Homo sapiens: one gene and its partner. The protein of the gene in region 1 interacts with the protein of each later gene in a pairwise test. Each region holds a gene or a part of one and is shown on either strand. Other genes may lie near its edges. The genes, in order: BEGAIN and SAXO1.

Region 1 (11,462 bases):
ACCACCATCCCATTCAGTACCTCGCGGCAGGTACTATCCTCCTGCCCCTTTACAGGCGAGGAAACTGAGGCTCAGGGAGGCCAGGGCCTCGCCCAGAGCGGCTCAGCCGGCGCGCTCACCCTCCCTGAGCCCCAGCACGTTGGATGGGAATTTCTGCCCCAGCGTTTCCGCTTCCTGCTTGGTTTAGAGGTGTTTCCTTCCTCGTCTGTGCCCCACCCCATCCCCAATGTGGTTTCCTCAGGGCAGGAACAGCGTGGGCGACGCGCTGGAGTCTCCTGAGCCGGCAGAATGGGAGCAGAGTGGGCACCCGGGAGCGGGGCCGGATGGATAGGGAGCACTGCACGTGCAAAGTCCGCATGGCCAAGGTCGGCCGCCAGTGCAGACTGGGGGTCCAGGCCCTGGGGGTATGGGTGGGGCGGGGTCTCCACAGCCAGGCTCCGTCGGAGGCCCCAGTGCTCTGGCTCTCTGGAGGCCATGGACAGGTTCTTTTCCTTCTCTGGACCCTAGTTCCTCTGCCTGCCAAGAGCAGCAGAGACCCCCACTACTCCCAGGGCCAGGCTCCCACGAGGACTGTGGGCAGAAGCCCCTAACAAACTGCGGTGTGCAGCCCTGCCAGGCTGGCCTTGGTCTTGCCAGCAGGGGCAACTGGCCGTTGGGGGTGGCTCTGCCTGGCATCTGTGACACGCAGGGCGGGGAGACGGCAGAGAGGGCCCCAGCAGCATCCTGCAAACCCTTAATTTTCCCGACTCTCACTATAATCAGGGCAGCTTGGAAAAGCAAGCACTGTGGCAGATGCGGCTCTGCCCGGGCTCAGCACACGGGCTCTGGGCGATGGGCGGCTGCGCTGCCGCCAAGGGCCCTCCCCAGCTTTTGTCTCATATTTATAGATTCCAAGGCTCCGCGTTCCGTTTGTCGTCAAAACCTGGAGCTGTTCGCACCTGGGAGCTGAGTGGGGAGGGGAGGGCTGCCTAGAACCTCAGCCTGGAGGATGAGTTTTCCATGCGCTGGGGTGGAGTAGGGGGACACCTGTCAGAGCCCAGGCCTGGAGAGAGGAAATGAGCCCTAAGCAATCTGGAAGATCTTCCATCCACTCTCCCAAGACTTGGGCGCAGGGTCTGGCCCACATAGCTGCCATTTATGGAACGCCTGCTATGTACTGGGCCCTGGATCAGCATTTCCACGCATCATCTCCACGGCAACACTTTGAAGGAGCTTCCCTACTCCTGCAGGCACTCCTGATGCTGAAGAGTGGATGGATGGATGAATGGATGGATGGATGGATGGATGGATGGATGGATGGATGGATGGGAGGGAGGGAGGGATGGATGGGAGGGATGGATGGATGGGAGGGAGGGAGGGAGGGATGGATGGATGGGAGGGAGGGAGGGAGGGATGGATGGGAGGGAGGGAAGGAGGGATGGATGGGAGGGATGGGAGGGATGGATGGATGGGATGGATGGATGGATGGATGGGAGGGAGGGAGGGAGGGAGGGATGGATGGATGGATGGATGGATGGATGGATGGATGGGAGGGATTGACTGAAGCCCATGAGTCCATGGCTATTGGACACAGTCCACAAATCATTACCCAGGGTCCCAGGAGGTGGGGTCCAAGGGCTGAGTAGTTGCTGAACAGATGAAGGGGTCAAGGTGTGTTACAGGAGCCTGGCCCAAGGCCTGAAGGTGATGGGGAGAGTGTAGAGTGTTCAAGTCTCAAGACTTAGAGAGGCTGTGTCCTGCTGGAGTGTGGAAGCCATGGCGGTGGGGAGGTGTGGCTCCTCCCCCTAAGGGAGGTAAGGATCCCTGGGACAGATGGGTGGGTGACCCTAGGACTCGCCGTGTTGGTCTAGAATCACCCCGCATGGTTCTCTTCTGACTCCCCTTCCTGCCGCAGAGCTGGTCGCTAGCCTTAGTGGAGAGGCCTGGACGGAGGTCTGCAGCCCTGGGTTCTGGTTCCTCCTCTGCCGCTGACTCACTGTCTCCTCTCTAGGGCTCCGTATCAGAAGCTTAACACCCATTACAGTCAGGGGAGTGACTTCTGTGGCCTGAGAGCAGGCATCAGATTGTAGCCTGTGGTGGGAGAAGCTGGCCAGAGGTGTCTCTATTGCTTTAATCATTATAGGAATGAATGAATGAATGAATGATGAATGACTAAGTGTGTGAATTCTACACTCACCTAACATGCTGTACCTAAGCACCCACTCTGCACTGCTCATTGGGGTCACTTAGGTGAGTCTGACACAGACCTTGCCCTCCACGAGTCCACAGTTTGCTGGGAGACATGGACCTTGGCCAGTACGGCAGGAGTCAGGAGCTGCTGGGGCTCTTCTCTCCCCTCTAGCCAGGAAGGGAACTCAAAAGTGGCCCTTGCCTCAGCAGGCCTTGAGTCTGGAGGACAGTACAGCAGCCTCTGTGGTCTGCCTGGGGTGGGGATCAGCCAGGGCCCAGCTCTGAGCCAAGCAGGGGAATTGCAGTCATTGGTTCAATCAGCAAGCCCTGAGCCCAAGTCAGGGATGGAGATGGGTCAGGCCTGGGCTTTGCCTGGGGAAGCCAGACATGGAAGCCTGGTCATCCCACAGTGGGTGCATGCTGGGATTAAGAGGTGCATGAGGTGGAGAAGCAACGCAGGCATGCTGAAGGGGATGCATGGGTGGATGATACTGTATGGAAGGGAAGCACTAGCAGGATAGAGCAGCGGATGGATGGGTAGAAACCTAGAGGGATAGGCTGGGCGCAGCGGCTCACGCCTGTAATCCCAGCACTTTGGGAGGCCAAGGTGAGTGGACCACCTGAGGTCAGGAGTTCAAGACCAGCCTGACCAATATGGTGAAACCCCGTCTCTATAAAAATACAAAAAAAATTAGGTGGGTGTGGTGGTGTGCACCTGTAGTTCCAGCCATTTGGGAGGCTGAGACAGGAGAATTGCTTGAACCCAGGAGGCAGAGGTGAGGTTGCAGTGAGCCGAGATCGTGCCACTACACTCCAGCCCCTGGGCAACAGAGTGAGACTCCATCAAAAAAAAAAAAAAAAAGGAAGAAAAACGAAAGAGAGAGAGAGAAAGAAAGAAAAAAAGAAAAGAAAGAAAGAAAGAGAGAAAGAGGGATAGATGGACGGGAGGAGAGGTTGATGGATGTAAGTAGCAAGATAGGGATGGGTGGGTGGACAGATGGAAAAGTTGATATGGATACAGGACTGGATTGATAGAACAAAATATCAATGGATGATACATGGGTGGAGGGAGGGAGACTTCTGATACACAAGGCAAGATTGGTAGATGAATGGATGGAAGGATCTTTGGATGGATGGATGAAGGAATGGATACATAAATGGATACAGGTAGTGCCTGGATGTTGGGATGGGTGGATGAATACTTGAATACATGTCCATGAATGATGGACAGAGGAATGAATGGACACTGGAAGAGTGAGTGCATGGATAGGTGATGAGTGTATATTGACGGATGTGTGGATAGAGGCCTGAGAAGGCAGCTCAGTGCACAAATGGATACAAAGCAATGGATGCATGGATACGAGACACAAGTAACAGAGGAATGGACAGACATGGAGGGATGGGCAGGCGGACAGATGGAGACGGGAGTGAGAGGACCAGTGAACAGATGAGTGCCCATCAGCGGGTGAGGGACACAGAGACAGAAGGATGTGTTGGTGCGTGGATGGCACCTGTAAATGGGTGAGCGGTCACAGGGGTGGATGGTGAAGGACGGTTGGTTGAATGGGTGAAGCTTCAGGTCACTCATGCCTTGATTTCCCAGATGCCAGTGTTTTGCTCACAGACCCCCATGTCCCTCTGCTTCAGAGACATATACTACGCAGGCGCAGGGTCAGGAGGGGGCTGATCAGACAGGGAGACTTAACCCCACCTTGACTTTGGTGGGAGAAAAGCCAACCCAAACTAACAGCTATTTGGCCTTTCCAGGCCCGCTTTGCCCTGGAAGACCCACTCAGGAAATAAGGAAGAAGCAGTGAGACCTCTTCGAAAGGTCAGCGGCCAGCCGGGGTTCCTACAGGGGCGTCCTTGCCCAGGGATCTCCCTGGAAGACCTGGACAGCTGTGTACATGTCCTATCTGAGGAAGAGAACTGGGGCACCTGTGTTGGGTGCTGGGGACTGGGAGACATCAAGACCATGGCTGCCCTTGGAGATTCTGAGGCCAGCGTGGAAAATCCAGGGACAGCGGGGCAGGTGATTAGGAGCACAAGTGTGCGGATTCCCAGAGCCTCAGTGTCCTCAACTGCAAAAGGGGAATAATAATAGACACTTCTGACTGGGCGCGGTGGCTCACGCCTGTAATCCCAGCACTTTGGGAGGCCGAGGTGGGCCGATCACGAGGTCAGGAGATCAAGACCATCCCGGCCAACATGGAGAAACCCCATCTCTACTAAAAATACAAAAATTAGCTGGGCATGGTGGTGCGTGCCTGTAATCCCAGCTACTTGGGAGGCTGAGGCAGGAGAATCGCTTAAACCGGGGAGTCAGAGGTTGCAGTGAGCCGAGATCGCGCCACTGCACTCTAGCCTGGCAGCAGAGCGAGACCTGTCTCAAAAACAAAAGAGAAAAAAGAAAGAAAGGAAAAAAAATAAACTTCTGTGCTGGGACGAGGGGAAGGTTGGTGAAGGTGACCACACCTCTGCTGGCCTATGCTGCGGCCCCTGGCGCATGCCCGCACCATGGGGGTTTACCCGAGACCCCTCAGAGCCCAGTTTCCTCCTCCGTGAAGCGGGGTAGCTGCTCCTAGCTTTCAGGCCTGCTGTAAGAATGAAGCGAGGTGACGTTTGGCACTGTCAGCAGAAGCCCGGCATGCCTGCCCACTCGGCAGGGTCCTCCCAACATCCTGTGGCCTGGTCTTCCTGCTCCAATCCCAGCAGACAGTGGGCAGCCTCATGCCCCTTCTGTCCGAGCTGGCAGGGGCCAGCTTTCCAACCACAGGGGCAGTGTGTGCCAGGCAGCAGGAGAGGGGCTTGGGCATCTGGAGAGGAAACGGGTGTGAGTGCCTGACCTTTGGGGTTCTGTCCTGGGCCTGACATGCCCAAGCCATGTGACCTCCGACGGGTCACTGCACCTTTCTGAGACCCTGCTTCTTTTAGCAGAAAATAGAGCCTTTGGCTGTCCTGATGCACAGAGGCGGGTGGGGATTTGGGGTGATGACGCATGCACAGCACGGAGCTTGGCACGCAGGATGGGCTTGGGAAGCAGGACTGAATCAGATGAGTCAAGAGGCAGGGGCTGCGGTGCCAGGAGCCGGAAGCCCCTCCAGGAGAGGTTGTCCAGGCTGCTGGTAGGTGAGCAGGTCCAGGCCGTGAGCCCACGGTAGCCGGCAGCATCCTTAGAGCCTCAGGCCCAGGCGCCTGAGAGCCAGCAGGTTGTTATGACAACGGAAACTTGCCTGATGCAGCCTGAAACTCTGGAAGCAGCTCAGAGGACTGGTTGGCCAGAGCCCCCAGAACACTCCTGCAACCATGCGTGCTAGTGAAACGGCCACATCAGAGCCCCAGTGCTAATGAGTCCTGAAGTCCCTTGCTCATGCCACTTCCCAGCACTGCCATGGGCTGAGTACTGCCCCATGCCCACCTGACAGATGAGGAGGGGATGTGGCTTGCCCGCAGGCCTGTTGGAGTGTTGGAGAAGGGATTTGAACTTGGATCTGCCAGCCTCCAAGTCTCTTTCCCACTGGTAATAGGGCAGGGGCTGAACGGCTGCTGCTGGGGAAGGGCTGTCCGGGTGTAGAGGGGCGACTGTCGGGGACCATAGGGTGGGAGGAGGACACTGTGGCCTCCCGAGAGCCTGAGATCCCTCCCCTATATTCTCATCCTGTTTCCAGTCACAGTAGGCCCACACCAGGCTGGGGATGTTTGTGAACTGACAGCCTGAACCTGCTATGCCATTCATTCAGTCAGTCATTCAAGAACTACGCATTGAGCACCTGCTATGTGCCAGGCCCTATGCAAAGAGCTGGGATACAGTGGAAGTTACATTCTACGGGGGGACACACACACAGATAATAAATAATTGCAAACATTAGTTACAGCTGGGGGCCAGGGCTATAAGGGGCTGCCGCAGGGGTACTTGATCTAATCTGAGGGACAGAGGGGGACAGGCTGTGAAACTGGGACCCTGAAGGTCAGCTGGGAATTAGATGATGGGAAGGAGGGGAAGGGAGAGAGTGAGAGTGTTTCTGGCAGAGGGAAAGCAAGTGCAAAGGCCCTGAGGTCAGATAGAGCTTAGCACATTCAGGACCTGAGAGACGTTCCTTGGCAGCGGGGAGCACGGGGCGGGAGGGTAGCAGAGAGAGAGAGAAGACACCAGCAATTGTCAGGGCCTTGCAGTGTATATGAAGGTGTGACGTTGTCTAGTCACCTGGCCTGTGATTTTATTTATTTTTTCTTTATTTATGTGTTTATTTTTTAGATAGAGTCTTGCCCTGTCACCCAGGCTGGAGTGCAGTGGTGTGATCTCAGCTCACTGCAACCTCTGCCTCCCGGGTTCAAGTGATTCTTCTGCTTCAGCCTCCCAAGGCTGGGACTACAGGCAGGCGCCACCACACCCAGCTAATTTTTGTATTTTTAGTAGAGATGGGGTTTCACCATGTTGGTTAGGCTAGTCTCGAACTCCTGACCTCAGGTGATCCGCCTGCCTCGGCCTCCCAAAGTGCTGGGATTCCAGGCGTGAGCCACCGCACCCGGCCTGGTCTGTGATTTTAAAAGGTCACACTCGCCGTGTTTGTGGGATAGGCCGGGCTGGATCCGCATCGACTCAGGAGGCACAGGAAGGGATGATCGCAGATGTCCAAGTGAGACATGGTAGTGTCTGGTACCAGCAAAGTGATGGTGAGGATGCAGGGAGGTGGCCAGGCCTGAGAAAGGCTGAATCTCCAGGGCCTGGCAGCCAGGGGCGGGGACAGGGAAGAGGGAAGGAAAGAGTTGAAGCGGCCCCTGTTCCTGTCTTGGGTGGCTGAGGCCATGGTGAGGCCACGCACTGAGTTTTGCAGACTCAGTCAGGGGCGCTTTGGGCATTCAGAGAGGTGTCCGGCAGAGCTCAGAAAAGCAGGGGTCCTCAGCACCTGATGGAGGCATCCAGACAGAGCCCAGATGTACAGCTATGAGCATGCCACACAGGGCCTCAGCCTCGCTCCAAGCAGCACCAGAGGCCAGGCCAGCGATGGTGGTAATGCCCACCAGGCCAAGGGCCTGGGCTGCCACCCCTGGAAAGCCTTCCTTCAGTCTAGCAGCCTAAAGCCGCATCCTAGGAAGGATCTCTGTGTGGGGTGCAGTGGGCAGGCGTGTCTCCCTTCACACAAATGATGGAGGGTCCAGGTCTGGCTCTAACCCTTCTCTAAGTTTATCTCCCTGGCCCCACTCCCACCTAACTACACCCGAGGCCTCCATGTGCCAAAGGCTCTTGCTCATAGCGTTAACAACTGCTTTTTCTCACCCTAACCCTGTATATCATTGGAGAATTGCACATAGCTGCTACCAACAGAGATGAAATAACCATAGCTTAAAGACAAGAGGTTATTTTTCTTTCAAGTTAAAGAAGTACCAGAAGCAGGCCAGGCACAGTGGCTCACGCCTATAATCCCAGCACTTTGGGAGGCCAAGGCAGGCGGATCACCTGAGGTCAGGAGTTCGAGACTAGCCTGACCAACATGGTGAAACTCTGTGTCTACAAAAAATACAAAAATTAGCCAGGCATGGTAGCAGGCGCCTGTAGTCTCAACTACTTTGGAAGCTGAGGCAGGAGAATTGCTTGAATCTGGGAGCGGAAGTTGCAGTGAGCCGAGATCATGCCATTGTAATCCAGCCTGGGCAACAAGAGCGAAACTCCATCTCAGAAAAAAAAAAAAAAAAAAAAGTACCAGAGGCAGATGATGCAAGGCTGGTGTGATGATGATTCAGTGGTCATGAGATATCCGGATTCCTTTTGTCTTTCTGCTCCTCCATCTTTTATATATGGCTGCTGCCACAAGTTTGTCTCATGGTGCAAAATGGCTGCCACAGCTCCAGCCATCACTTCCATGTTCTAGAGAAGAAGCAGGAGGTTGGTGAATGGGAAAAAGACACAGGCTGGCTGTCTGATCTTTTCTGCAGAGTTCTGCCAGCAGTCACACCCAACTTCTGTTTATAGTTCATTGGCTACCTCCTGGCCTGGCTTATAGGAGCCTGGGAAAGGTGGTCTTTTAGCCGACTACCCTGTATCTCAAAAGAAAATGAAGGCTCTGTAATAAGGATGCATGGGAGGACTGTGGGCTGCCCGCAGCCTCTGCCACCCCCTTCCATTTGCTGGTTTGCTGCAGTTCCAGTTTGCCCTGCTTCAGGCCCAGCACTCAAGCCATCATGGTGGCCACCGTGGCCATCTGTCCACTGCCTGTCCTCTGTGCCCCTGCACCCTGCACCGCACCTGGCAGAGGAGATGTGAGAGTAGGAGAGGGGGAGGCCCAGCCTAGGGCCCTGTGCACCATGGGAGCTCACTCAGGGAGGGCTCCTCCCCAGGCAGAGCCCAGGACACGACCTTCCCCTCTCTAGCACTTTCTAAGCCCTGAAGCTCAGCTCTCATTTAGTGAGAATCGATTTGGGGGTGGGAGGCCAAGAGGCCCTGCCACTGGATCAATGGGCAGGCGGGCATCTGGCAGGCAGCCCTGGCCTGTGAGGACGGGAGGCACAGCCCCCAAGAGGGCACAGGGATCCCAGCCCCATGGGAGGAGAGGAGTGGGTGACGGCGCTCTTGGGGAGCCCGGACCTTGGACTGACTCAGGAGGATGCTCTCAGGGGCCAGCTCCCAGGCACGGGGCTCTAACCCTACCTGTCCCAGGCAGGACGGCTACAGCTCCCTCCTGGAGCCCGGGACAGAAGCCCCCATCAAGGAAGCTCACAGACAGGACCTTCGAAGCCACATGCCAAGCCCCAGCCAAGGTCGGAACCCCAAGGGCAAAGCATCTTGCCACCGCTGGGCAGCTCGGTCCAGCCAGGAGATGGCCCGGGTGTCGCCAGCCCAGCCTTCCTCCCCAGAGTCCCTGAACACAGGCAGCCGGGCTGTCACTGGCTCCCTCGCACGCCTGGGCCGCTGGCGGGAGGCCAGACTGCCCTTCTCCAGGTTCCTGGATGAGGTCACTGTGCGGGTTCTGGACCCTGGGACCCTGGAGGCCTTCAGGGTGCCCAGAGGCCGCAGCCCAGAGCCCTCTGCAGTGGATCGAGGCCAAGGTCTAGCCCAGGAGGCCCTTACAAGAGCTGCAGCCCCAGGGGAGAAGGACCCAGCCCTGAGCTCCCAGCTTTCTTCGGAGGCGGCCACTGAGGCTGCAAGCAGAGTGGGGCCAGGCCAGGCCGTGGGAACTAGTGGGCCTTGCTTGGGCAGTGGCAAGCGTGGAGGCCGGACTGCCTCCCCTTGGAGGTCTCCAGGTCGGGTGAGTCTCAACCCCAGAGGTCTCTTCCCTCCCCATGTGCCGCTTCCCCACAGGCCCTGGCTGACCTGCTCCGAGTTCCCTCCCCACACCCCATTTATAATATTTGTAACGGGAAAGACCTTAATTGCCAAAAGAATGAATCTCTAAGGTGAAATTTCTGGCTTTGGGGCAGGCAGACTATTTCTGTACGGAAGGCATATGCATGAACAGTAATGATAACAATTATAATAATCCCCTCCCCACTGCGGCAGAGCCTTGGTGGTTTACCTTGGGCTTTCCCGTGATTATCCTTTTACATTTTTGAACCTGACACAACCCCACATGAGGCAGACTGTCCCATAGGCCTGTCAGGCAGCTTTCATAGCTGCCCCAATTATATGGAGTTGGAAACTGAGGTTGTGAGGGGCTGCCACTTGTCCCGGGTGACACAGGTAGTCCGGGCTTGGGCTGTAGAGCTCTTTCCTCGTACCCCGTCCACACATGCACTCTGGCCTCAGACAGATGGACAGGTGGATGGGCAAAAGATGTGGTGAGATTTCCTTGGCTGTCCTGGTGATGGAGCTGTGCAGAGCGTCGGGCAAATGGGACCTCATCCAGGGGCTGGCACCCCCACCTTGGTGCTGACCTTTCCTGCCCTGTACCATCTGTGTCCCCTGGGCCAGGGAGGGTCCTCGTGGGCTGCCCGGATGTTGCTCGTGCCCCAGTTCCACCTTCTCCCAACACAGGATGGAGACGGAGGCCGTGGGATGGGTTTGTGGGATATCAACCTGTAGCCACCCAGGAAGGCTTTCCTGCCGGGAGGGGGTCTGTTCTGAGGATGAATTCCGGGTGAGCACGGTGACTCTCGCCGAGTGATACTCGCCGAGCATTGACTAGTGTTCTCAGCTTCTGACCCCCAGCTTGGGCGCAACCCCAGGAGGTCGGCGCCATCATTATGTCCCCAGTGCATGGAGGAGGAGGGAGGTGGAGGAGCCGGGTTGGGCCCAGGCACTTTGCCCTCCACCTCTGCACCTCTGCCACCTGTGTGCTGCTGGCCCTCAGGTGGCCTGCTCTGTCCAGGGATGGCCAGGGACAGGCCGGTGGGTGGGAAGTTCTGGTGATTTGAAGCCCTGCCAGCCCTTTCCCTGTAGGTCTGCATGGCCAGCTGGGGCCAGGCAGCTCTGGGTGGAAGTGCATCTCGAGGGTCAGTGGCCTTCTGTGTGACTCTGGACAGGTCACCCATCCTCATCATGCCTCAGTTTCCCCAGCAGTGAAAAGTCAGTCATGACCACAGGCACCTAATAAGCATTGTTTCCCCGCCTGCTCCTCCAGGGGTGGTGAGCTGGGAGCCCCACTTCTCTGCTGCTCTTGGCTCCACTTACCACGCAGACCGTCCTCTGGGGGCTGCTGGGCCCTGGGGGAGTCCTGGTGCCACCCAGGCCCTGGAGGATTCCATCCCAGGGCTTCTTGCACATATCTCTTGGGGCCTCAGGGCCTGTTGGGGCCCAACAGTGTGTTCAGGGGGCGAGGCTGCACCCTGGGGCCTGGCCAGAGTGGCCCCACCCGGGAACCCAGCTTGACTCCTTGAAGCGGGAGGTGGCATCAGCCCCAGCAGGAGGGGCTGGACCATACCTGGCCTTGGAGGCCCTGGTCTCCAGGCCTAACTCCTGCTGCACCCCACCTTCCCCCACCAGCCCCCCAGGATCGTATCTCATGATGGGCACCAACTCTGAGCCCCTCAGCTCCAGCCTCAGATCAAATACAGCAAGCCTGAGAAAGTGATCCTAGGGTCAGTCTCATTCTATAAACCAGGCACTGAGGCCCGGAAGACTGAGTCCAGCAGAGTCCTGGTTGGGCTGTGCCCTGGCTCAAGTCACACTCCCCCCAGTGTCTCCATGGGGACATTAGAGATAACTGGGGAAGGACCCTGGCCCAAGGTAGGGATTCAGCCGCCGGGATGATAGTGGTGATAAAGATAGCGATGCCAGCCCTTCACAGGGGCTTGTCTGTTGATTTGAGCACCCACTGTGTGCCTCGTACCTTCCTGGCCTGGACAAGCCTGTGTCCCCA
Region 2 (11,462 bases), on another chromosome or scaffold:
TAAAGGGCACTCTAAAAACTGGATCAGCAACCTTCTATATCTCTGGCATCAATAAATGGTTCCCAACTCTGGCTGCTGATTAGAATCACACAGGGAGTTTGAAAACTATCAGTTGCTCAGGCCGTTGAATTGATACTCTCAGAGTGGGCCCTGTCAACTGTCTAAAGGTGATTCTGGCCATTTGCTAGGACTGGGACTCACTGAACTAGATCATGTACAAACGTGGGTCTTGCTTTTGAGCTTTGTTAAGTGGGGCCAGAGCAGTGTATAGTCTAGGACTACATGTTACCAAGCAAAACCTTTTTTTCTAAGGCCGCCTTTCTTTTTTCTTTTTGGAGGCAGTGTCTTGCTCTGTTGCGCAGGCTGGAGTGCAGTGGTGCCATCTCGCTTCACTGCAACCTATGCCTCAGGGTTCAAGTGATTCTCCTGCCTCAGCCTCCTGAGTAGATGGGATTACAGGCACATGCCACCATGCCTGGCTAATTTTTGTATTTTTAGTAGAGACAGGGTTTCAACCATGTTGTCCAGGCTGGTTTTGAACTCCTGATCTCAGGTGATCGCCTGCCTCGGCCTCCCAAAGTGCTGGGATTACAGGCATGAGCCACTAAGGCCTTCTTTCTACTGGGATGCTTTACATTACCCTCCTGTGTCCTCCTGCATTGTTCTAGGCATTGGGATTGAATGTATAAGACATAGTCTCCATCTTTGCACAGCGTGCAGTCTAGGTAGGAAGGCAGAATGCTCATTAAGAGGTGCAGAGCATATATAGTGAGAAGTCTCCCTCCTGCCCCTGCAGTAGGGTTATGACTCATTTGGGTGTTCCTTCTCTGACTCTGTTCTCATTCTGTCCCTGCAAAGGAGTCACTTTCCATTGGAAGCAGAGTCTGTTCTTGTGTCTCTTCTCCTTTTCTTCTCTCCTCATCCTGTATTTTCTCCTCCATTTTATGGTTTCAGCCAATAGTTTCTCCTGTCTTCTGAATTCCAGTTTCATTTTCATCTTCTCAAAGTGCTTTGGTGATCCATCTGTCTCATTAATCTCAACTTCAACAACCTTCAAACATTATTCTGGTATCTGCCCCATTCATGGTGCCAGCAATCTTCCATTCACCCTGGGTGAAAATTTTGAATCATCTCTTACTCTCCCTCAAACAGAACATTGAATCTTTTTCTTCTTCTTATTTTTTTATTTTTTTTATTTTTTTGAGATGGAGTCTTACTCTGTCGTGCAGTGGCGCGATCTCTGCTCACTGCAACCTCCGCCTGCTGGGTTCAAACGATTCTCCTGCCCCAGCCTCCCAAGTAGCTGGGATTACAGGTACCCACCACCATGCTGGGCTAATTTTTGCATTTTTAGTAGAGATGGGGTTTCACCATGTTGGCCAGCTGGTCTTAAACTCCTGACCTCAAATGATCCACCTACCTTGGCCTCCAAAAGTGTTGGGATTACAGGCGTGAGCCACCGAGCCTGGCACATTGACTCTTTTCTAAAGTCTGGGTCCCTCCTCCATTGTAATCTTTCTTTAATTGGTCCCTTCCCTTTTATTCCGGTTACAACCTCCCTGGTTCTCTCATTTTTGTGTTTGGAAACTGGTCCTAAATTACCTTCCTAGTTTTTTTTTCTCCCATGATTCCCTTACATGAAACTACACCTTGAATTGGATCAGGTTTCTTGGCATCCCCTGAGTGGACCTGCTGATGTCCCTTTTCTGATCCTTATCCTTTCCCTTTCTCTAAAATACCTATGTTCCCTCCTCCTGCTGGACTTGTAAGGCCCGGTTTCACTTGCAAGTTCCCTGTTAACCCAGCCCTGTGGCTCCCCATCAAAGAAAAACCCCGCTCCGTGTTCTCATCCTCTATGCATCAGCATGCTTTATATCCTCGATTAATTATATGTACGCTGGGAAAACAGATATTTTCTATTTTTGTGTGTGCACTGTATCATAGCAACACAGTTTTCTTTATTAACAGCTAACACATATCTTTTTGAATGAATGGATGGCGTTTTTTGTTTGTCAAGGTCATAACATGCTGGACTGGGTTAGGAATGTAAGATTTAGAGATGTACTGTCCAGTATGGTAGCCAGCTGTGGCAATTTCATTTAAATAAATGAAAGTTAAATAAAACTAAAAATTCAGTTTCTCAGCTGCACAAGCCACATGTCAAGTGCTCAGTAGCTACTCGAGTATAGTCACTCCCATACCGGCACATGCAGATAGGGAGTGTTTCCATCACTGCGGAAAGTTCTGTTGGACAACACTGATCTTGAGTCTCATTATTTGGAAGTCTTGATCTCTCCCACCCCAATTAAATCCCTCCCACCCCAATTAAATCTGCTCAGTGACCGGTTGGGATGGAGCGAGGAATTTTATAGGTGTTTTCTAAGCTGTGGAAGTCTATATTTGGCTTTTCCAGTCTGAGGTCATGGGAAAAAGCAATGGGAAATCTGGAAGACAAGCATGCATGAAGAAGTCAGAGACAGCGCCCTTGAGTGGGAGGGGGAGACCGGGGTTCCTGAGTGAGTCACTGGTTCTCTCTGGGCTTCAGTTCCCCCATTTTTTAATCCTGGAGATTTGTGGAGACCCTCAGGGCTGCCAGGGAGGGAGAGAGGCACATTTATTCCCCCTTCTCTCTCACATTCTCTTCTTCCGAAGTTTTTCTTGAGCAAATAATTCTTTAATGTCCTTTCAACTTTAACTTTTGAGGACATTGTACTTGTTGGCGAGTGGGCTCTGGAGATGCTCAGAGGCCTGGATAAAAAGGTGTCCATCTGCAGGAGCAGCTGCCCACAGCTGCTGAGGAAAAGCCACCAATGGGTGACTCTCTTGGAGCAAGTTCTTATATTTGGCCACAAGATGGCAGACGTTTCCTGATCAATTCTCACTGCGGGTTAAACCAAATCAGCCTGAATGGAAAAGCAAAACCTTTGGAGTTCTGGATTTTATTTTATTTTTAAATAGATTTATCTTTAGTTTTCTAAAATGAGCAATTAGAGTTTAGGGTCCAGCAGAGCTCAGGAAAGTGGTACGCCTTTCAGAGTAGATGGCAGATTACGAAGTGAAAAGTGTTTCAAATGTCTAAATTTAAAGATTCCAATCACTTGTAAAACTTTTCAGTGAGCTTTGCTGGGCTAAAAAAAAAATCAGACATATTTTACTGCGTCAAGCTCAAGGCTTTGCCTCCACAACAATGCTCTACTTCTTTCCTTGAAGATCAAAATCTTGCAATTGGAATTATTACCATAGAATGTCATAATATTCTCTTTTCAACATAATCAGCACCAAAAAAGCAGAGTATTGTGGTTTGCAGAAACAGTAAGGTCAGCATCTAAATTTTTTTTGAAACTAATGTACCACTTAATTATCTTGACTTAAGAAGCTACATGGTGGGGGAGTGCTTTGAATAGAGTAACTCTAATTTTGTATATGAGAGTATAATGTTTCCAATTGCATCTGATTATCTCCAGCATTTCCTGTTATTGAAAAAATGCTACTCCGAAGAGTTTTATTTTTTATTTTTTTTGAGACGGAGTCTCGCTCTGTTGCCCAGGCTGGAGTGCAATGGCGCGATCTTGGCTTATTGCAACCTCCGCCTCCCGGGCTCAAGCGATTCTCCTGCCTCAGCCTCCCGAGCAGCTGGGATTACAGGCGCCCGCCACTACGGCCGGCTAATTTTTGTATTTTTTTTGTTTTGTTTTATTTTGCCTCTAAACCATCTTTTATTGCGCACTTCAGCCGCGAGTCCGGGGCTGGCCTGCCGTGCCCTAGGCGTAGTACTGTAGGTTGGCTTTCTTCTTGGCCTGGACCTCCAGGATGCCTTCCATGTAGTCCTCGTGGGTGAGCTCCGTGGCACCCCTGCGCAGTGCGATCATACCCGCCTCCACAGACACAGCCTTGCACTGGGCCCCGTTGAAGTCATCTGTGCAGCGGGTCAGCTCCCTCGCAGTTCACGTCAGGACTGACGTTCATCTTTTGGGAGTGGATCTGCATGATTCTGGCCCAGGCACTCGATCTTGCGGTCCAGGCCGCCCTAGCGTAGCAGGGCGGGGTCCAGGATGTCCACCCGGTTTGTGACTGCAATTACCTTAACTTGGGTGTTGGGCTGGAAGCCATCCAGCTGGTTCAGAAGCTCCAGCATCGTCCTCTGCACCTCTCGGTCCCCGGACTTCTCGCTGTCAAAGTGCTTGGTGCCTATGGCATCCAGCTCATCAGTGAAGATGATGGAGGGCGCTTTCTCCTTGGCCAGGGCGAAGGCATCCCGGACTAGCTTGGCACCATCTCCAGTGAACATCTGCACCAGCTGGGGGCCAGTCAGCTTTAGGAAGGTGGCCTTAGTCTGTGCCCTACAGGCCCAGGCCAGGAGGGTCTTCTCCGTCCCTGGGGGCCAGCACCCCTTTTGGATGTTGGATCCGCAAGTTCTCAAACTTCTCCTTGTGGTTCATTGACAAGACAGTGGCCTCCACCAGTTCCTGGATCTGCTTGTCCAAGCCCCCAGTGTCACTGTATTGCTCCGTGGGTCTCTCATCCACCTCTGTGGCCTTCACCCGCGAGTCGTACTCTGGGCAGTGTCTCCAGGATTGGATAGGAGTCTTTGTTCACACCCACCAGGTCTCCTGGCTTTAGCTTTTCAACATCCACCAATCCAATCACAGGTAGGAAGTATGTCTGTCGTGTAGAGGTTTTGATCACAGCACACTTGTCCTTCCTCTGGGAGTCCAGGTCAATATTTGGACCATCCTCCTCTTGATCATTGGGATCAACATCCAGGAGCTCGATGATGTTGGAGACAAGGTACACCAGGGTTTTGTTCACATTGATTTTCTCACTGTTCTCTTTGATCTTGTCCTTCATGGCTTGGAGCTCATGGGTGACTCTCAACAGTTAACTCTTCATGATCTTGATCTCACTGTCCAGAAGCCATGTGCGCTGGATGATCTCCTCCGTGGACATGTTGAGCACCTCCACCCCAGTTCCATCTTGCTTGGCCTCATCCCACACGGTTGCCATCTTCTTTTCTAGTTTTTGAATTTTTAGTAGAGATGGGGTTTCACCATGTTGGCCAGGCTGGTCTTGAACTCCTGACCTTGTGATCCACCCACCTCAGCCTCCCAAAGTGCTCAGACTACAGGTGTGAGCTACCACGCCCGGCCCAGCATTTTATAATATTAAACCACCTTCCATCTTTACAGTATTTTGAAAATTCAAAAAGTATTTTCCCATATATTATTATCTTACTGTGGGTCCCTCAACATGGGAAGCATTGCTTAGTTTGGAAATTCGATTCCTTGATTTTAGCCTCTCTTTTCCCTGGCGATGTTTTCAGTCTATTGAGCTGTTCTTTCCCAGATGACTAAATTTGAAACTGTGGTTAGGTGGGGGAGTGGGTGGCGCAAGGCAGGGTTGCTGTAAAGTAAAACGTTAATCAGACTTTTAAAGCTGAAAGGGATCTTAGTGGTCTCTAGCTCTTTTATTTTACAGATAAGGAAATAGAAACATTGAGATTAATTTTAATATATGGGAACATGTTAAGCTTCAGGCACAATTTAGGTCAATCAATTAAATTTTATTCATATTTTACTGGGTATCAGACACTGCTAGGTGTTAAAATTTATAGTCTGGTCTATTTTCGAGTCACACTGGACCATTTAAAAAATTGATACATAATGATTGTACATATTTCTGGGGTACAAGTGACATTTTGATATATTCATATAACATGTAACAATCAAATTAGGGTAATTAGCATATCTATCACTTCACACATTGATCATTTATTTGTATTGGGAAGCTTACAAATAATCTTCTAGCTATTTTGAAATATATGGCAAATTATAACTATAGTCACCCTACTGTATTATCAAACACTGTAATTTATTTCTTCTATCCAACTTATTTTTGTATCCATTAACCAACTTAATTAGTTCCCCCAACTCCCACAATGGGCCATTTTTGATTGTAGAGTACAATATGAAGGCTCTGGTCCAACTGAGAAAATAGTATCTGATATAAAAAAAAAAGTGTAATTCTAAAAGCCTTTTAGTAAAGTAATATAAATAGCAAATCTCCCTCCTGAGATTAAAATGTAGTAACACTACTTTTTCTAAAATTCTTGTAAAAAATTGTTAATGAAGGGATTGATATAGCTTACTTTTATATCTGATTATTTTACAGCTTACAGTGCACCATTTTAAAGATTTTGTGCAATCTTGCAGGAAATTCCAGGACTGGTTAATGTATCATGAAATATTTATGAAGCATTGGTAGTATGTGCAGCATTTCATAAAAAAGGTAGTCCCATAGAGGACTCAAAAATTGCTGAAAAGGATGTGGATTTGGCCCTTTCACAGAGCTTGTGGAGGAAGGTGATCTCAGGGGCAGCCATGTATCTGCAACTTAAATCAGTTATGTTAACCAGGGAGGAACTTGTTATTTTAATTTTGGAAAATATTTTCTTCATATCGATGGAAATTTCCTTAACCTTAGATTTTATTTTCTTAGAGTCTCTGTTACACATTAAGAGGAAGGAAAAAAAATTGAGGACTTGGTTTCATATTACATGTTTTAAGAAGAATTCTTATTTTTAATTTAAATAAAATTGACTTCATAAATTCTGATTAAGGAAAAAAAACACAAAGAACAGCCTTTAACAGATACTTGCTGATGACTTATCTTTAGCAGAATCCAGATAGAGATGCCAAGAAAAAAAAGAAAAACTTTCACGTTAAGATTGAATTTTTATTGTAGATTTCATGTACTTTTCATGTTAAGCTATGTTATGCTCCTTAAAAATGGCCTTTTTTGGATATCAGAATTAATGTTTAATTGTTCATAAATACCTTTCATCTTATAAAATGAGTACAAGTGGGTATATGTCAAATTTCAGATATTATTAGAGTACAACTTCATATTCCAATTACAGCAGTAAACATGATCTATTCGACCTTATAGTCTGCAGATGGATCCGTTCAGAGTAACATGTTCTGATTCTGTTCTGTAGTGGGCAGTTTTAAACGTCATTCCCTCCATTGATATTAAAATATTTATTACTGACCTTCAGGTGATTTATAGTTTATTTGGAAAGATGACATGTCTCGGGATGGGTGGTGGAGGGGTGGAAACAGCTACCCTTAGATGAATGAGACCAATAAAACAAGTGATGTAGGATGTGAGGGGTGGGAGAGGCGCTTTGGGATGGGGTAGCCGGGGAAGGCTTTAGGATGGAGAAGTGATGAGGAAAGTGAAGCTGGAGTGAGACTGCCTGGTTTCAAATGCTGGCTCTGCCACTTTTTTTTAAATTTTATTATTATTATACTTTAAGTTTTAGGGTACATGTGCACAACGTGCAGGTTAGTTACATATCTATACATGTGCCATGTTGGTGTGCTGCACCCATTAACTCGTCATTTAGCATTAGGTATATCTCCTAATGCTATCCCTCCCCCCCTCGCCCCACCCCACAACTGTCCCCGGTGTGTGATGTTCCCCTTCCTGTGTCCATGTGTTCTCATTGTTCAGTTCCCACCTATGAGTGAGAACATGCGGTGTTTGGTTTTTTGTCCTTGCGATATTCTTAAGGTTGGTGTGAGGATTAGGCGGGAGAGGAGCACAGGCCCTGGAGGAAAGGGTATGTTGGGGTTTAGTGCGGCTGCCCTTGCTGCAGGGCAGGGCAGTCAGAGAGACACGGAAGACATCATGTCTGCCTGAGTACTTGAGCCTGCAGGAGATCGTGCCGGAAGCTTGCTGGAGGCAAATTGCAGAGGGACTCTTACATGTCTCAGAATGTGAACTCGCCAGCAAAGAGCCATGGATGGATTTTGAGCTGGAGAGTAACATAGATAAATAGTCTTTTCCCCCGCAAAAAAAAAAAAAAAAAAAAAAAAAAAAAAGCCTTAAAGAGTAGCATTTCTTCTTCTTTTTTAAAATATAGAGATGAGGTGTCACTATGTTGCCTAGGTTAGTCTCAAACTCCTGGGCTCAAGCAATCTTCCCACCTCGGACTCCCAAAGTGCTGGTGTGAGGAGCTACTGTGCCTGGCCCCCTTTGTTCGTTCCTTCGTTCCTTTCCTCCCTTTCCTTCCTTTCTTTCCTTTCCTTGCTTTCCTCCCTCCCTTCCTTCCTTCTTTCTTCTTCAGAAATGCCCAATATCTGAATTAGGCTGACTTTAAATCTGTTAATGTTTTGGTTTTTCTGAGTGGATTTGTAGTTTGCTAATATTTCCTTAAAGATATATTATCTCCATTCCATTCTTGTCACTTTTCTTAACTTGATTTAACACATGATTAAGTGATGATTGACTACGAGAAGTGGCAGAGTATTGCAGTTCCAAGCGCAGACTGTGGAGCCAGCCTATCTTGGTTCAAATCCCAGCCTTTCTGCTCCCTAACTGTGTCATGTTAAACCATTTCACAGTGAAGTTTCTATTTCTGTGTACCTCAGCGTTCTCATCAGTAAAAGGGAGATAGAACCTGACTCAACAGAGTTATTGAGAGGATTGAATCAGTATTAAGCAAGTAGAACAATGCGTGCATCCACAGTAAGGCATAGGTAGATGTTATTAAATAAGCATAAAGGTCTGTTCTAGGCAATGAAGAATGAAGAAGTGTACTTGCCTGAGCACTTGAGTCTGAGTGGGAGATCCTGCCAGCAGCTCTGTGGAGCTCGCACCCTAGAGAAGAGAGTTAGGATTGTTTACTAACTTGCATGTAATAAAAAATGCCCTGCAGAGAATTAACTCCGGTGGGGCGGGGGGGTGGGGGGGGATGTAATCTGGTGTTTGGGGGGCTTGATTAAATATTGATGATAAGAATGGTTTGCAAAGACTTCATCTACTCCTTATACTCTGGGAGGCTCTCTGCCCTTTCTGGGATGCCTACACTTGAGTCCAGCATTTATTAGGCTTTGTGAGTTCATACTGACATTAACAAACACTAAGGTTAAGTTGCTGTTCAGTTTTGAACTTTGCAAGTCTTCAAAACAATGACTCTGGGGATTAAAGACGTACTCCCTGCATAGCATACCCTACTATTCTGTTTTATTGTCTTTACCAGCTTGTTCAAAGTAACTTTGAAGTTTCTCTGGTTGTTTCTCTAAAAGGAAAGAAAAATGTTTCTAAATGGCTGTCAAATTAGCTGCTAAGCAAAATATATCCTTATATTTTAAATATCTAGACTATCCAAAAGCCCTTCATTCTAATGTTAACAAATTGGGGTTGTAATGTAAAAAATCAGTTAAGTTTCTCCCAGTGCTGGTCAATAACTTAACTTTTAGAAACTACCCATTATGAGTAACTATTTTTAAAAATCACTATCTTTCCCCATAATGGTCCAATTTCTCTTTCAAGTATGATGCATTTCAAGTCTTCTGCAAATGAAAAAAACTCTACATACAATCTGTGAACAACAGCTCCAAATGAAGAGCAGAGTCAATTGAATACCCTGTTCTTTATCTTGCTTCACATGGGAGGGCAGTGAGTAATATTAGGGGAAGAACATGCTATTGTGTCTGGAATTGGTTCCTTCTGGTGGATTCTTGGTCTCACTCACTTCAAGAATGAAGCCGCAGACTCTCGCAGTGAATGTTACAGTTCTTACAGATGGTGTGTCCAGAGTTTGTTCCTTCAGATGTTCAGATGTGTCCAGAGTTTCTTCCTTCCAGTGGGTTGGTGATCTCTCTGACTTAAGGAGTGGAGCTGCAGACCTTTGCAGTGAGTGTTACAGCTCTTAAAGGTGGCGCCTCCGGAGTTGTTCGTTTCTCCCCGTGGGTTCGTGGTCTTGCTGATTTCAGGAATGAAGCCACAGAAACTCACACTGAGTGTTACAGCTCATAAAGATAGTGCGGACCCAAGGAGTGAGCAGCAGCAAGATTTATTGTGAAGAGCAAAAGAACAAAGCTTCCACAATGGGGAAGGGGACCCGACCCAGTTGCCACTGCTGAGCAGGTTGCCCTTGCTGGCTTGGGTGGCCAGCTTTTATTTCCTTACTGGGCCCTGCCCACATCCTTCTGATTGGTCCATTTTACAGAGTGTTGATTGGTCCATTTTACAGAGTGCTGATTGGTCCATTTTACAGAGTGCTGATTGGTGCGTTTACAATGCTTTAGCTAGACACAGATTGCTGACTGGTGCAGTTTTACAGAGTGCTGATTGGTGCATTTGCAATCCTTTAGCTAGACACAAAAGTTCTCCAAGTACCCACCTGACCCAGAAGCTCAGCTGGCTTCACCTCTCACTATGACTGTTGGGATTGCAGTCCTGGATTTAATTACTTACAAGCTTTGTGAACTTGTTCAGGTCCTTGAATATCTCTAGACTGTCAAAAATCAGTGATCCTCAGACAGTGGGATTCCCATCATCTATAGCGGTGTTTTTTCAGGTCCAGAGAACTTCCATGTCAGGGCCCAGAAGGTGTCTGCAGAGGTCTTCTACAGCCTCTGCTGGCGACCTCAAGAGAAGTCAGGGAAAAGGGGACATGGGGCACAGACCTGAAGGTGGACAGATGTTTTCCTGAGTTCATCAAAAGTATTTAATGGCTAGTTGGGAGTATGTGTCTTTCTCGGACCTTATGGCTCTTGCGGTGTCTGATCTGTTTTCTTCTGGGTACTCTGACTTCCTCTGCACGTTGGCTGTCTGTGGCTACCCCAGCCCTAGCTTCATACCACTTCTCATTTCAGAGAACTAAAGAGTTTAATGTGCTGTTTCCAAATTCCACAGAAAAGAGCTCCTGGTTGGGTCCAGCCTGTGACAGGTGGCTCTTCTGGCATGAGGCTGTCTCCTGTGGTCTAATCAGCTGAGCATCAGGAGGGGTGAGGTCACATAGAACAAACTGGGCAGCTAGAGGAGAGCAGTTTTAGGTAATAAAGATGTAGTTTGGAAGAAAATAATTAAGAGGAAACAATTGGCCTTGCAACAATTCTTGCCAAGATAATCTTGTGGATAAAGCTAGTGAAAGATGGGTTGGATGACAATATTAGGTTAGGTGGATTCCCAGGTCATTGAACAAGCAGGCCAGAAGAGTTTCAACAGATGGCTTTTTACCTGCTTAAAACAATGTCACCATTGTTAGTGATACTGGAACAATATCCCCATGCCCTAGAACTCTATTGTTAGCTTTGTCATGTTCAACATTTTTAATCAAAACTTGGATGAAGACACAGAAGACATCCTTATCAAGTGTGCTGAGAACACAAAGTGAGAAGAACATAGCAAGCATAATAGATGACAGAATGAAGATTCAAAATTATCTTGGTTATGCCCAGTGGCTCACACCTGTAATCCTAGCATTTTTGGAGGCTGAGGTGGGCAAATCACTTGAGCCCAGGAGTTCAAGACCAGCCTGGGCTGCATGGTGAAACCCTGTTTCTACAAAAAATACAACAACAAAAAATTAGCTGGTTATGGTGGTGCGTGCCTGTAGTCCCAGGTGCTGGGGATGCTGAGGTGGGAGGATGGCTTGAGCCTTGGAGGCGGAG

The links.
Region 2: the proteins of BEGAIN (region 1) and SAXO1 interact in binary tests that used the Homo sapiens proteins (3 or more experiments, as listed by UniProt).

Annotation. Positions count from the first base shown.
Region 1 is NC_000014.9:100,575,262-100,586,723, reverse strand, and holds part of BEGAIN (brain-enriched guanylate kinase-associated protein), read left to right. Parts: intron 1-11,462. UniProt on the Homo sapiens protein: May sustain the structure of the postsynaptic density (PSD).
Region 2 is NC_000009.12:19,020,434-19,031,895, reverse strand, and holds part of SAXO1 (stabilizer of axonemal microtubules 1), read left to right. Parts: intron 1-11,462. UniProt on the Homo sapiens protein: May play a role in the regulation of cilium length. Stabilizes microtubules at low temperature.